Linked DNA regions of Homo sapiens. The protein of the gene in region 1 purifies or fractionates together with the protein of each later gene. This does not show direct contact. Each region holds a gene or a part of one and is shown in the gene's direction. Other genes may lie near its edges.

The links.
Region 2: the proteins of BRI3BP (region 1) and TMEM238L purify together in Homo sapiens (co-immunoprecipitation; one study listed by IntAct). This does not show direct contact.
Region 3: the proteins of BRI3BP (region 1) and GPC1 purify together in Homo sapiens (co-immunoprecipitation; one large-scale study listed by IntAct). This does not show direct contact.

What each region holds. Positions count from the first base shown.
Region 1 is NC_000012.12:125,014,015-125,017,662, forward strand, and holds part of BRI3BP (BRI3-binding protein precursor), read left to right. Parts: intron 1-3,648. UniProt on the Homo sapiens protein: Involved in tumorigenesis and may function by stabilizing p53/TP53.
Region 2 is NC_000017.11:10,801,643-10,805,355, reverse strand, and holds the start of TMEM238L (transmembrane protein 238-like), read left to right. Parts: upstream 1-1,256; 5' UTR 1,257-1,392; coding exon 1,393-1,632; 3' UTR 1,633-1,750; intron 1,751-2,847; exon of another isoform or gene 2,848-2,957; intron 2,958-3,713.
Region 3 is NC_000002.12:240,438,540-240,442,187, forward strand, and holds part of GPC1 (glypican-1 precursor), read left to right. Parts: intron 1-3,648. UniProt on the Homo sapiens protein: Cell surface proteoglycan that bears heparan sulfate. Binds, via the heparan sulfate side chains, alpha-4 (V) collagen and participates in Schwann cell myelination.

The sequences.
Region 1 (3,648 bases):
GAGCTAACCCGGGCAGAGTGCCCAGGGTGTACAGCTTTTATACCCAGAGGAGACCTTGTCCCTTACCGCCTTAAGAGCTTCAGAGGCATCCCATGCTCTCAGGATGAAGTAACCTTCCCGTTTTCTCTACCGTGCCCCATGGTGTGCCAGGTAAACAGGGATCTCCTAGCTGCCCCCGCTCCACTGCTCTCCTTCTGTCCACAAGGTGGAGGCCGCTCTTCCCCTGGGCCTTTCCAGAGGAAATTCCCCAGCTGGGCTCTTTCCAGCCCCACCGCCCTGGTCCCTGGTCCCAGCTGCCACCTGTCTCACGGGAAGGTCTGCAGTTGCTGCATGTGGCAGGGTTCCTAAGACCATCTACAGGCTCACCGGTTCCCTAGGAGCACTGGCAGGACTCAGCATATAGTTGTCCTCACAGCCGTGATTTATTGTGACGGAAGGACGCAAACACCATCAGCAAAGGGAAAAGGTGCGCGAATTCCCGGGCAGGCCAGGCCCAAGCTTCAGAGTTCTCTCCCTGTGGAGTCATACGGGACACACTTAATTCCCCCAGCAGAGGGTGCCCACCAAGGACTCCCTGCCCAGGCTTTTTACTGGGGGCTGGTCATGTAGTCACCCTCTGCTTGACACGTGTCAAAATTCTAGACTCCCAGAGGGAACGCAGGTGTTGTCATAAACCACATCATTTGTGTCAACAGCCTAGGCCTGGCATCTCCAGGCTGCACTCTGGCCCCAGCTCTGCACCTGGCACAAAGAGGCCCTTTTTGTTTGTTTTTGTTTAGGATCTCACTCTGTTGCCCAGGCTGGAGTGCAGTGGCTCAATCACAGCTCACTACAGCCTCAACTTCCTGGGCTCGTGATCCTCCCACCTCAGCCTCCCGAGTAGCTGGGACCACAGGCCCATGCCACCACACCTGGCTAATTTTTGAATTTTCTGTAGAGACAGGGTCTTACCATGTTGCCCAGGCTGGTCTCAAACTCTTGGGCTCAAACCATTCTACTGTTTCAGCCTCCCAAAGTGCTGAGATTGTAGGCGTGAGCCACCACACCCAGCCCACCCTTGGTTAATAAGAGCAGGAGGGCTGTGGGTCCCACTGCTTAGCCAGTCATGTGGGCTGAAATGTGCTCCTCAAGAATATGTGTTCCAGTCCTAATCCTGGACCTGTGAGTGAGCCCTTGTTTGGGAGTGGGGTCTGCAGATGTGATAAAGTTAAATGAGATCGTCTTGGATTAGGGTGGACCCTCAGTGTAATGATTGCTGTCCTTATAAGAAGTGGGGAATTTGGACACAGAAACACCAAGAAACATAGGGAGAAGACGGCCATGCGAAATGAGAAACAGGGACTGGAGGGACGGAGCCACAAGCCAAGGAACACTGGGACCACCAGAAGCTGGAAGAGGCGAGGAAGGATCCTCCCTTGAACTTTCAGAGGGAGTGTGGCCCCACCAAGACCTTGATTTCAGACTTCCAGCCTCCAGAACCGCAAGTGGATGAATTTCTGTTGTAAACCACCCAGTTGGTAGTGGTTTGTTGCGGCAGTCACGGGAAACCATTATACCATAGCCCTGTTACATGCGGAATCTCTCAGCAGCGCCCATTGGTGCTTGACACCCAGAGATGGGGGAGTGGGGTCCACTGGCCATGATGGGCACACTGGTTCATACCTGTTGACACCCCAGGCCATTCAGAAATGTCTCCAGCCTTAATTCATTGAGTTCAACCTTTAAGAGGCCTTAGGCCAACTCAGTCACCTCACTGCTCAGACAAAGAATCAGAGGCGTCAGCATAGCCAGAGGACACTGTGCACCTGGCAGCCCCCTGGGGCCACTCATGGCCCCTCCAGGGACTTGGCAGAGTTAACGCACCCTCCCCCAGATGCAGCCACCGCGTGCAATCCTCTTAGCTTCCGTATCCACCACCTGCCCGGATTGTCAAACTCTCTGTGTTTTCGTCGCCACCCATTGAACCCTGGAGAAACAAACCTGATTGCAGAAAATCGCACGCAGCTTGGAATGAAAAACTACAGAGTAGGAACAGCCTCCTAATCATATGGAAGAAGCCCAGAATAGAGGCATCGGCAGCGGATCCACGAGCCCTGAATGCCTGCATTCATCAGGGGAGCAGCTGGCGCGTTCTGGAGGCGAAACGAGCTTGCTTCCGTGTCGAAGCTTTTCTAGTTCTGTTTGATGCGTAAGCTTCAAGGCATCCGAAGCCCTTTGGAATTCGTGTCTTATGCGTAGAAGTTTGAGTGCAAAATGCTTTACAGGAAGCCATACACCAACGTTGGATATTCTGGTAAAAAAGGTTTCTGTGAGCACAATTCTATAATTTCTTTCTTCAGTGTTTTTTTTTTTTTTGAGTCTGGTTAAAATGGGAACTCTGTAGCCCCGAATGGTCTAATAGCAAAAAAATGTGAGCCCCCTAGGTGATGTGAAGTTTTCTAGTAACCATGTCAAAAGAGTAAAAAGAAATGGTGAAATTAGTTTTTCTTCCTTTTTTGGGGGGGAGGGGGTGGGGAGTGGGGGGTAGGAGGGACGAAGTCTCACTCTATTGCCCAAGCTGAAGTGCAATGGCGCTATCTCGGCTCACTGCAACCTCTGCCTCCTGGGTTCAAGTGATTCTCCTGCCCCAGCCTGCCAAGTAGCTGGGATTACAGGCATGCACCACCACACCCGGCTAATTTTTCTGTATTTTTAGTAGAGACAGGGTTTCACTATGTTGGCCAGGCTGGTCTTGAGCTCCTGACCTCGTGATCCGCCCGCCTCAGCCTCCCAAAGTGCTGGGATTACGGGCATGAGCCACTGCGCCCAGCCTTTTTTTTTTTTTTTTTTTTTTTTTTTGAGACAGAGTCTTGCTCTGTTGCCCAGGCTGGAGTGCAGTGGTGCAATCCCAGCTCACTGCAACCTCCACCAACCCAGGCTCAGGTGATCCTCCCACCTCAGCTTCCCAACTAGCTGGGACCACAAGTGTGCACCACCACATCTGGCTAACGTTTGTATTATTATTATTATTTTTTTTTTTCTGAGACCGAGTATTGCTCTGTCGCCCAGGCTAGAATGCAGTGGCCGATCTCATCTCACCACTGCAACCTCCACCTCCCGGGTTCAAGCAATTCTCGTGCCTCAGTCTCCCGAGTAGCTGGGATTACAGGCACCTGCCACCATGCCTGGCTAATTTTTGTATTTTTTTTTAGTAGAGATGGGGTTTCACCATCTTGGCCAGGGTATTCTCGAACTCCTGACCTCATGATCCACCTGCCTCGGCCTCCCAAAGTGCTAGGATTACAGGCGTGAGCCACCGTGCCCCCCTAATGTTTTTTTTTTATAGAGATGGGGTTTTGCCATGTTGCCCAGGGTGGTCTCGAACTCCTGAGCTCCAGTGATCTGCCTGCCTTGGCCTCCCAGAGTGCTGGGATTACAGGCATGTGCCACCATGCCCAGGTGAAATTAATTTTAATAAGATATTTTAGTTAACCCAATATATTAAAAACAACTTATAATTAATAGAAAATTATCAGGTGTCTCACAGTTTTTTGGGTAACTAAGGCCTTTGAGACAGTCTCTATTTGACACTTAGAGCGCACATCAGTTCTGACTTGTCACATTTCAAGGGCTCAGCACACGATAGATGGCACAGCCTTTGTCCCCATT
Region 2 (3,713 bases), on another chromosome or scaffold:
ACCAGCCTGGCCAAGTAGAGTTTGAAACCCCATCTCTAATACAAATACAAAAATTAGCCAGGCATGGTCATGGGCACCTGTAATCCCAGCTATTCCAGAGGCTGAGGTGGGAAAATTGCTTGAACTTGGGAGGCAGAAGTTGCAGTGAGCCAAGATCGCACCATTGCACTCCAGCCGGGGCAACAAGAATGAAACTCTGTCTCAAAAAAAAAAGGAAATCAGATCCACCTACTTATTCTCACCCTCTGGGGAAGGCAAAAGTGAGAGTGGAAATTATTTTCTTCATTTATCTGGGTAAACTGAGGCCCAGAAAGGTTTGGTGCCCTGTTCTAGCCTCCCTGTGAATCAGGGACAGAGGGGTGGCTGTCTGCAGCCCTGCCAAGGACTGCCGCTGCATTTTCCTCATTTGATGTTCACCCCCACACCCGCCGTGAGCAGCCACGGGGATAAGATCGCTCCCATCAATGTAGAAGGGATGCAGGCAGTGTCTGGAAGGGCTTACAGGGTCATCTATTATGAGAAAGAAAATGAACATAAAATGAGTTCATGTAGAAAACACAGAGGCAACAGGCCCCGGAAACATCCCTTGACTTTTGCCTGGGAATTGCCCTTTGGTCCACACAGAATCCACTGCAGGAAGAGGCCAGAAGTTTCTTCTCACCCTGTTGTCTTCTCTCTGTCCCCTCTGTCTTTTCCATCTCTACCCCTTTCCCGCCCTTATCCTTACTGTCCATTATCCTAGGGAACTCAGATCCTTCCGTCTGCAGAGTGAGGGCTCTACAAGAAGGCAAAACTTCTCTTGCTAACATGGACCAATTCTTACAGCAACGCTTCAAAATCGATTGATCTTACAAACTCTTGTCTATGTCCTTTACATAAAACCTTTTCCCCCAAGGAAGAGAGTAGGGCAGGGAGGTGAAGAGGAATGGAAACTCCACCACTCCACCCCGCTATACTAGATGAAGCAGCTGTGTCTCAGAAACAGGGCACTCAGGCTCTCTGGCTTCCAGGGATTAGAGAACAAGGCACAGATCAGCCCCTCCCCCAGAATCACAGGACCGCCAACTTGGCAGATGCATCCAAGGGCACCCTGACTCCTCTGCCACATGGATTGTAGGTCCCAGCGATGAGCAGCCCAATTAACAGTGATGTCAGACTGTTTGGGTCCAGATCATTCCTGAGCCATGAAACAGTTAAGAAATATCCTGCCCCACTGGCTGCCGTGCTCATAAAGGTAGACCCACGTGTACTTCCCTGTGGCTCCAAGAAGCGCCAGCTCGCTCATTTGCTCACACCCAGCAGGCAGAGAAGGCAGCAGCAGGCAGGACCGCCACCCTCCCATGCAAATCACCCCCGGGAGTGCAGCTGGGCTCCTCCCGCTCCTCCTGGGCAATGCTCCTGGGGAGTCTGTGGGGAAGATGCCATCCAGGGCGCTGTGCGCTCTTCCTCATCCTCGCCCTCCTGCTGGACGCGGTCGGCCTGGTCCTTTTGCTGCTGGGGATCTTGGCCCCCCTGAGTTCCTGGGACTTCTTCATCTACACAGGTGCCCTGATCCTGGCTCTCAGCCTACTGCTCTGGATCATCTGGTATTCCCTCAACATTGAGGTGTCTCCTGAAAAACTGGACCTGTAATTTGGCCATGGGAAGAGGAGAAGAGACGCAGGTGCTGTATGCAGACATGTCTGTGAACCTGGGGCTCTTGGGCAGCAACACGTTGCAGCTTCCACCTAGCAAGCCACGCCGGGACCAGGTGAGTGCACACAAGACCTACCTGGCAGGGTGGCCAGAGAGGCTTGGACAAGCAGGGGCAAGACCAGGCCTCCTGAGGCTGCATAAGCAAATAGCCAGACACTGCACCCTGACTGGGGATCCTGTGGCCCTGGCCTCAGGTCCTGCTGGGGTGGCCAGCCAAGAGGACGTGGGGCAGGTGTTTTCTCCTCCGGGCCCTTTTCCTCGCAGAGGCTGGAAAGAGAGTCTCAACAGCCCCTTCCACCCCTGATATACCACGAATGATCCTGGCTTCTGGGCACAATGGGAAGTTATCCCTTTACCTCGGAACTTGGGGACAAAAAGACCCCATCTGCATTCTCTGTTGGGAAGAATCTCTGCTGGGGAGAAAAGTCTTTAGCACAGGAGAGGACGGAAAGTTCCCCAATGACTCTTGTGCCCTTGCATACATGAAGGGGTGTGAACTGGGCCACGGTAAAAGCAAACAGAGCAGAACCACCCAGAACGGCCCCTCTCGTTCACTTCCTCCCTGCACCTGCCCAGATGGGATACAAGAAGCGGGGTAGGGACTACTCGCCTCCATGCCCACTCAGTGCACACACCTCCTCTCTCTGCAGTATTCCCACCCCACCCTCACTCACACTCACACGCAGCCAACACATGTGCCCAGCCAGTCTCCAAGGCCCAGAAGTCAAGACAGTTTGGCTTCATGGATTTCATCCGCTGAGTTGCATGTCACAGCTCAGTCTATCGCGTGCAACCAAAGAGGCAGAGAGTTGTAAGATTTTTTCACATCAAGACAGAGTCCCAGAGATAGAGTGGTCTGGTCCTTACAACCCTGAATTAGAGATGGACAGCTGTCTCCAGGGGACTGAAGTCAGAGCCACGGTCCATTGGGCAGCCATACCCTCCTCCCCAGGTGGGCCCAACCTGCACGCAGGTGTATCCAGGCACTCCCGTTTCTTACTCCCTTACCAGAAGTAAGAGCAAAGGTCGTTGCTGAGTTGAAAGAAGGAAATAATAATTGTGTCTTTTGTGGGGGATTACACCTGACTCTCAGAACTCAGAGAAAAGAGAAGCAAAATGAAGAGGTCTCAGTAGAGTAAGGTAAGCCCATACCTAGGAAATGATGTAGAAACAGATGAGAAGTCAGTCCCACTCTGATCTTCAGCACTTGTTAGCTGGGTGTTTTTGGCCAGGTTGCACACTCTGAGCCTCAGGATTCTCATCTGTAAGATGAAGAGAATATTTCTGGCCCTTATTGCTGCAAGGATCGAAAAGAGATAAGGCAGGGAAAGGCTGTACAATTGATGTGGTTCTTACACCAGATGTCAAGCATACAAAACACATAATCTGGGATGAGTTAACTGACCCAAAGTCCAAATGTGAAGTACCTTGGTGTCTCTCAAATTGGTAGTGATGGGGGTCAACTCACACTTTGCATCAGGAAACTTCAGAGCAAAAAGGGTCCCTGATTTGTGTGCTGGTATGTTGGAATGTGTCAGGCACTGTGCAAGACACTGGGGATAAGAAATGAGACACATGGACCAGGCACAGTGACTCATGCCTGTAATCCCAGCACTTTGGGAGGCCGAGGCGGGCAGATCACTTGAGGTCAGGAGTTCAAGACCAGCCTTGGCAACATGGTGAAACCCCATCTCCACCAAAAATACAAAAAATTAGCCACGCATGGTGATGCACACCTGTAATCCCAGCTATTCAGGAGGTTGAGGCAGAAGGATTGCTGGAGCCCAGGAGGCACAGGCTGCAGTGAGCAGAGATTGCACCACTGCATTCCAACCTGGGCGGCAGAGTGAGACCTGTCTCAATTAAAAAAAAAAAAAGACACATGACGTGGGGGCTCTACTCTCAGGGAGTTTACCATCAGGTGAGAAAGACAGACACTCACCAAAGATTCACACTTACAAAAGTACAATAACAAAGTCAGGTCTGCTCTAGGAAGGAGAGGAGCATCCTGCCACAAG
Region 3 (3,648 bases), on another chromosome or scaffold:
TCCAGGGGGACCTCCTCAGAGGGAATGCGAACCCCCTGGGGTTGGGCACCTCGCTGGCCCGGAGCAGGTGGGGTAGAGATCTGATACTTCCTCGTGGGAAGGAGAGCAGTTGGCCCTGGGTGTGTGGCGGGCCTTCCCAGCCTCTGCCCCAGGGACCAGAAAAGGCAGTGGGTGACAGGAGACTTAGCTCATGAAAGAGGGCAGTGTCGGGACATATTGGGCTCCCTTTTGAGACTTCCTTTGTCCTCTGGACAGCCAGGCCAGGCTGCAGTGACAGCAGTGGTCATCCCATTTTATGGGCAAGGAAGCAGGCCTGGGTGCCACCAGCTGGACGGTGGCACTGCAGCAGGGCACCCGGCCACCCTCCCTTTATGCCAGGGCACGGCACAGAAGGCAAGGGCGGAGCCGAGTGGCACCCCGGGTGCCCCTGCGCTGCCAGGAGCCCTCATGCTGAATCACTGCCCGCGTGCCAGCAGGCCTCCTGCTTTTGCTTGCAAGGTTGTGTCTGGGCATAGGTGTTCCCAGAGCACCTGTCTGGCCTCCTGATGTCTGATGTGATGTGATGTGTGTCTGTTTGCTCCTTTGCTGGGGTCTCAGCGCCCCACCTTGGCACCTGAGCTCCCTGGTCGCTGGGACCACCTCTAACTGTTTCCCTGTTGTAGCCACAGAACCCGGCTGGCTCCCGGCCCAGGATAGCTTCTCGGAGGACACCCCCAGGCCTTCCTGGCTTTATACCTGGCTGTGCTGGGTGGGGAGCGGGACATGGAGGGTAGAGGAGGGTCTCCTTGGAGCAGACACCCCTGTTCTCAGGGTCTCCCAGCCTGAGGCAGAGGAGGGGCCCTAAGGTCTAGTTTTGGGGGCAGAAGTCAGAGTGGGGCATGGGACTGTCGGTGGCACAGAAACTGCCCAGCCGCTCCTGTGCCCAGAGTGGCAGCCCGCCTACCAGCTGGAGCGGGCACCAGCGTGCCCTGGAGCCTGTACCAAGCACCCACTCGTTGGGCCCCTCCGAAGGAATCTTTTCTTCTCTGTGCCACTTTTGACCGCCTGGGTGGTTGGCACACAGACTCTGGGGAACCATCCTCAGAGGGCCTGGACCTCTCCTTCCCACATCCCTGAAAGGGTGTTTCCGGCTGGGCCCGGGAGAGCCCACCAGCATCTGCTTCTCAGTCCTGCTCAGCGGGCCTCTCGGAGGCTGCCTGGCACACAGCCCCTCACCAGACCAGACAGTTCCCTGTGCCCTGTCCTGTCCAGGTGGCTCAGCGTGGTTCCCAGGTGGTCCTCAGCCTTTGCTGTGTCGCTGCTCTTCCCTCCATGAGAGGAGCTCATCATCCCCAGCGTGAGGACCGAGCGGAGCCCAGGGGAGCCCTGATCCGACAGGGCCACCTGCGTGATGCAATGGCCTGGGTCCCTGCTGGACCGCCAAGCCTCCCATGCCAGGCAGGCCACAGCACTCCTCAGGCACAGATGCCCCCACCCCCATCCCATCCCCGGTGTCCCCGGGCCTTTTCACAGGAGAGAAAGGGAATAATCGTGACCTCCTGTGAAGGTGGCCAGGAGGGAGAAGGTGCTGGGGCTGTGCACCTCGTGGGCAGCCTCGGGCTGTGTCCCCCCTCTCCCCGGACACCCTCTGCAAAGGCCCACACACACCCCTCTCAGTTAATGGCATCCGGTACCCTAAGAGCACTCATGAACCCGGGTGCTCTTAGAACACGGGGAAACCCGGCTTGTGGAGCGTTTCCCATGACTGTCTGGTTAACACATCAGACGGAAGGGGTCTTTGTAGACCTGTTTTACAAATGAGTAAACCGAAGCCTGGTGAAGCGCTCCTCTTAGGGCCAGATCTGGCTACAGCATTGACCACTGCCCAGTAAAGCCAGGCCAGGCTGCTTGTCCCAGGCTCTGCACTTCTTGGAAGGCTCGTGCTTTTCCCAGCCCGCTCTCCTGTCCTGGGCCTGGGCTCCATCTCTTAGGCTCATTTAGAACGTTTAACCGGGACTCCTCCTGGCCTCCCTGCCTCCGGTCCTGCCCAGCTCCTCCTGGCCTCCCTGCCTCCGGTCCTGCCCAGCTCCTCCTGGCCTCCCTGCCTCCGGTCCTGCCCAGCTCCTCCTGGCCTCCCTGCCTCCGGTCCTGCCCAGCTCCTCCTGGCCTCCCTGCCTCCGGTCCTGCCCAGCTCCTCCTGGCCTCCCTGCCTCCGGTCCTGCCCAGCTCCTCCTGGCCTCCCTGCCTCCGGTCCTGCCCAGCTCCTCCTGGCCTCCCTGCCTCCGGTCTTGCCCAGCTCCTCCTGGCCGTGCCGCCCAGAGAGTCGTACTTCCACACAGCTGGGCCTCACCCTCCGGCCTGGCTCCACTGCCTGTGGGGGGCAGGACTGCTAGGAGGGCTGTTCCCAGCGTGTGCCACGAAGCCCTGCATGTCCCCAACAGGGCAGACCAGCCACCCACACTGGGCCAAGTGCCCCAGGATTAGTGGACAGGTACCCTATTCAGGTGCCCACAGGTGCCAAGCCAGGGAGATAAGGCAGTCCAGTCTGTTGGGGCTTGTACCTTCACACCAGCAATCTCTAGGGACAGTGTGAGCCTGTGGTTAACGCGCCTTCCCAGGTACCGAGGACGCCTCCCTACAGCAGGACGGGGGGCATACCTACCTGGTGGCCGAACCGCAGGGCTGCACATCAGACCTCGGAGGAGAGCTTAGTGGGTGTCTGAGCATGCCCATGTCTGTTCTATGGCATCCATGTGCATGGCACAGGTGTCAGCCATGGGCTGGCACTAGACAGGAGACGAGCCAGGGGAGGGGCTCACCCGAAGCCACACTGGTCAGGTCTGGCCTGGGGCCCCACATCTGCCGTGCCCGGGCCAGTGAGAGGCTGGACGCCTTTTCTTAAGCCAGACCGTCCTCACAGGGCCTGGCTCAGTTATTTCAGATCAAGACTGGACCCGTGGTGGAGGCTGGGGTGGGCACTCCTACATGCGGGGCCTCTGCCCAGCCCTGGCCCTGTCCAGTGTCGACGTGCCCAGAGCCCTGAGCCGGCCTGGATCTTGCCAGTCGCCAGCACAGCCCTGTGGGGCCCGGGATCTTGCCCACTTTACGTGGGGGCTCCAGACAGGAGCCGCCTGCCCGGAGCCTGGGCTCCTCGCTGCCGTGCCTGTGGTGGCTTTTCTTTGTCTGGGAACAGGCCTGGGCAGGTGCCCTGAGCCGCTTGAAGTCTCCTGACGGGGTGGGGGGTGCAGTGTAGGGTGTTGAGGCTTGGGCCAGGGAAGCGGGCGGTTCTCCCTCCACCTCCAGGCCCCACACCCAGGCGGGAGCACGCAGCAGCCAGGTGTTGGGTGAGGGCTATGCTGAGGAGCAGGGCCCAGAGCTGCAGCCTCCTTGGCTGCCCTTGGCCCGCCGTGGGTGGCGGGGAAGTACAGGTGTGAGGGGCATACCCCACTGCCCCAGGCTCGGTAGCAGTCTGGAATCCGGGTGGGTTTAGGAGCCCCTGAGAGGGCCAGGCCAGCCTCACACCATCCCCTCTCCTGCCTGTGGCCTCAGCTCCATCTCCCGCCAGCTCCTGCTGACCCACCTTTCTGGCACACCTGTCCCCTCCCTCCACGGTGTCCTCCCTGTGCCCACCCACAGCACCCGCCTCCTCCGGCCTTTCCCCACAGCTTG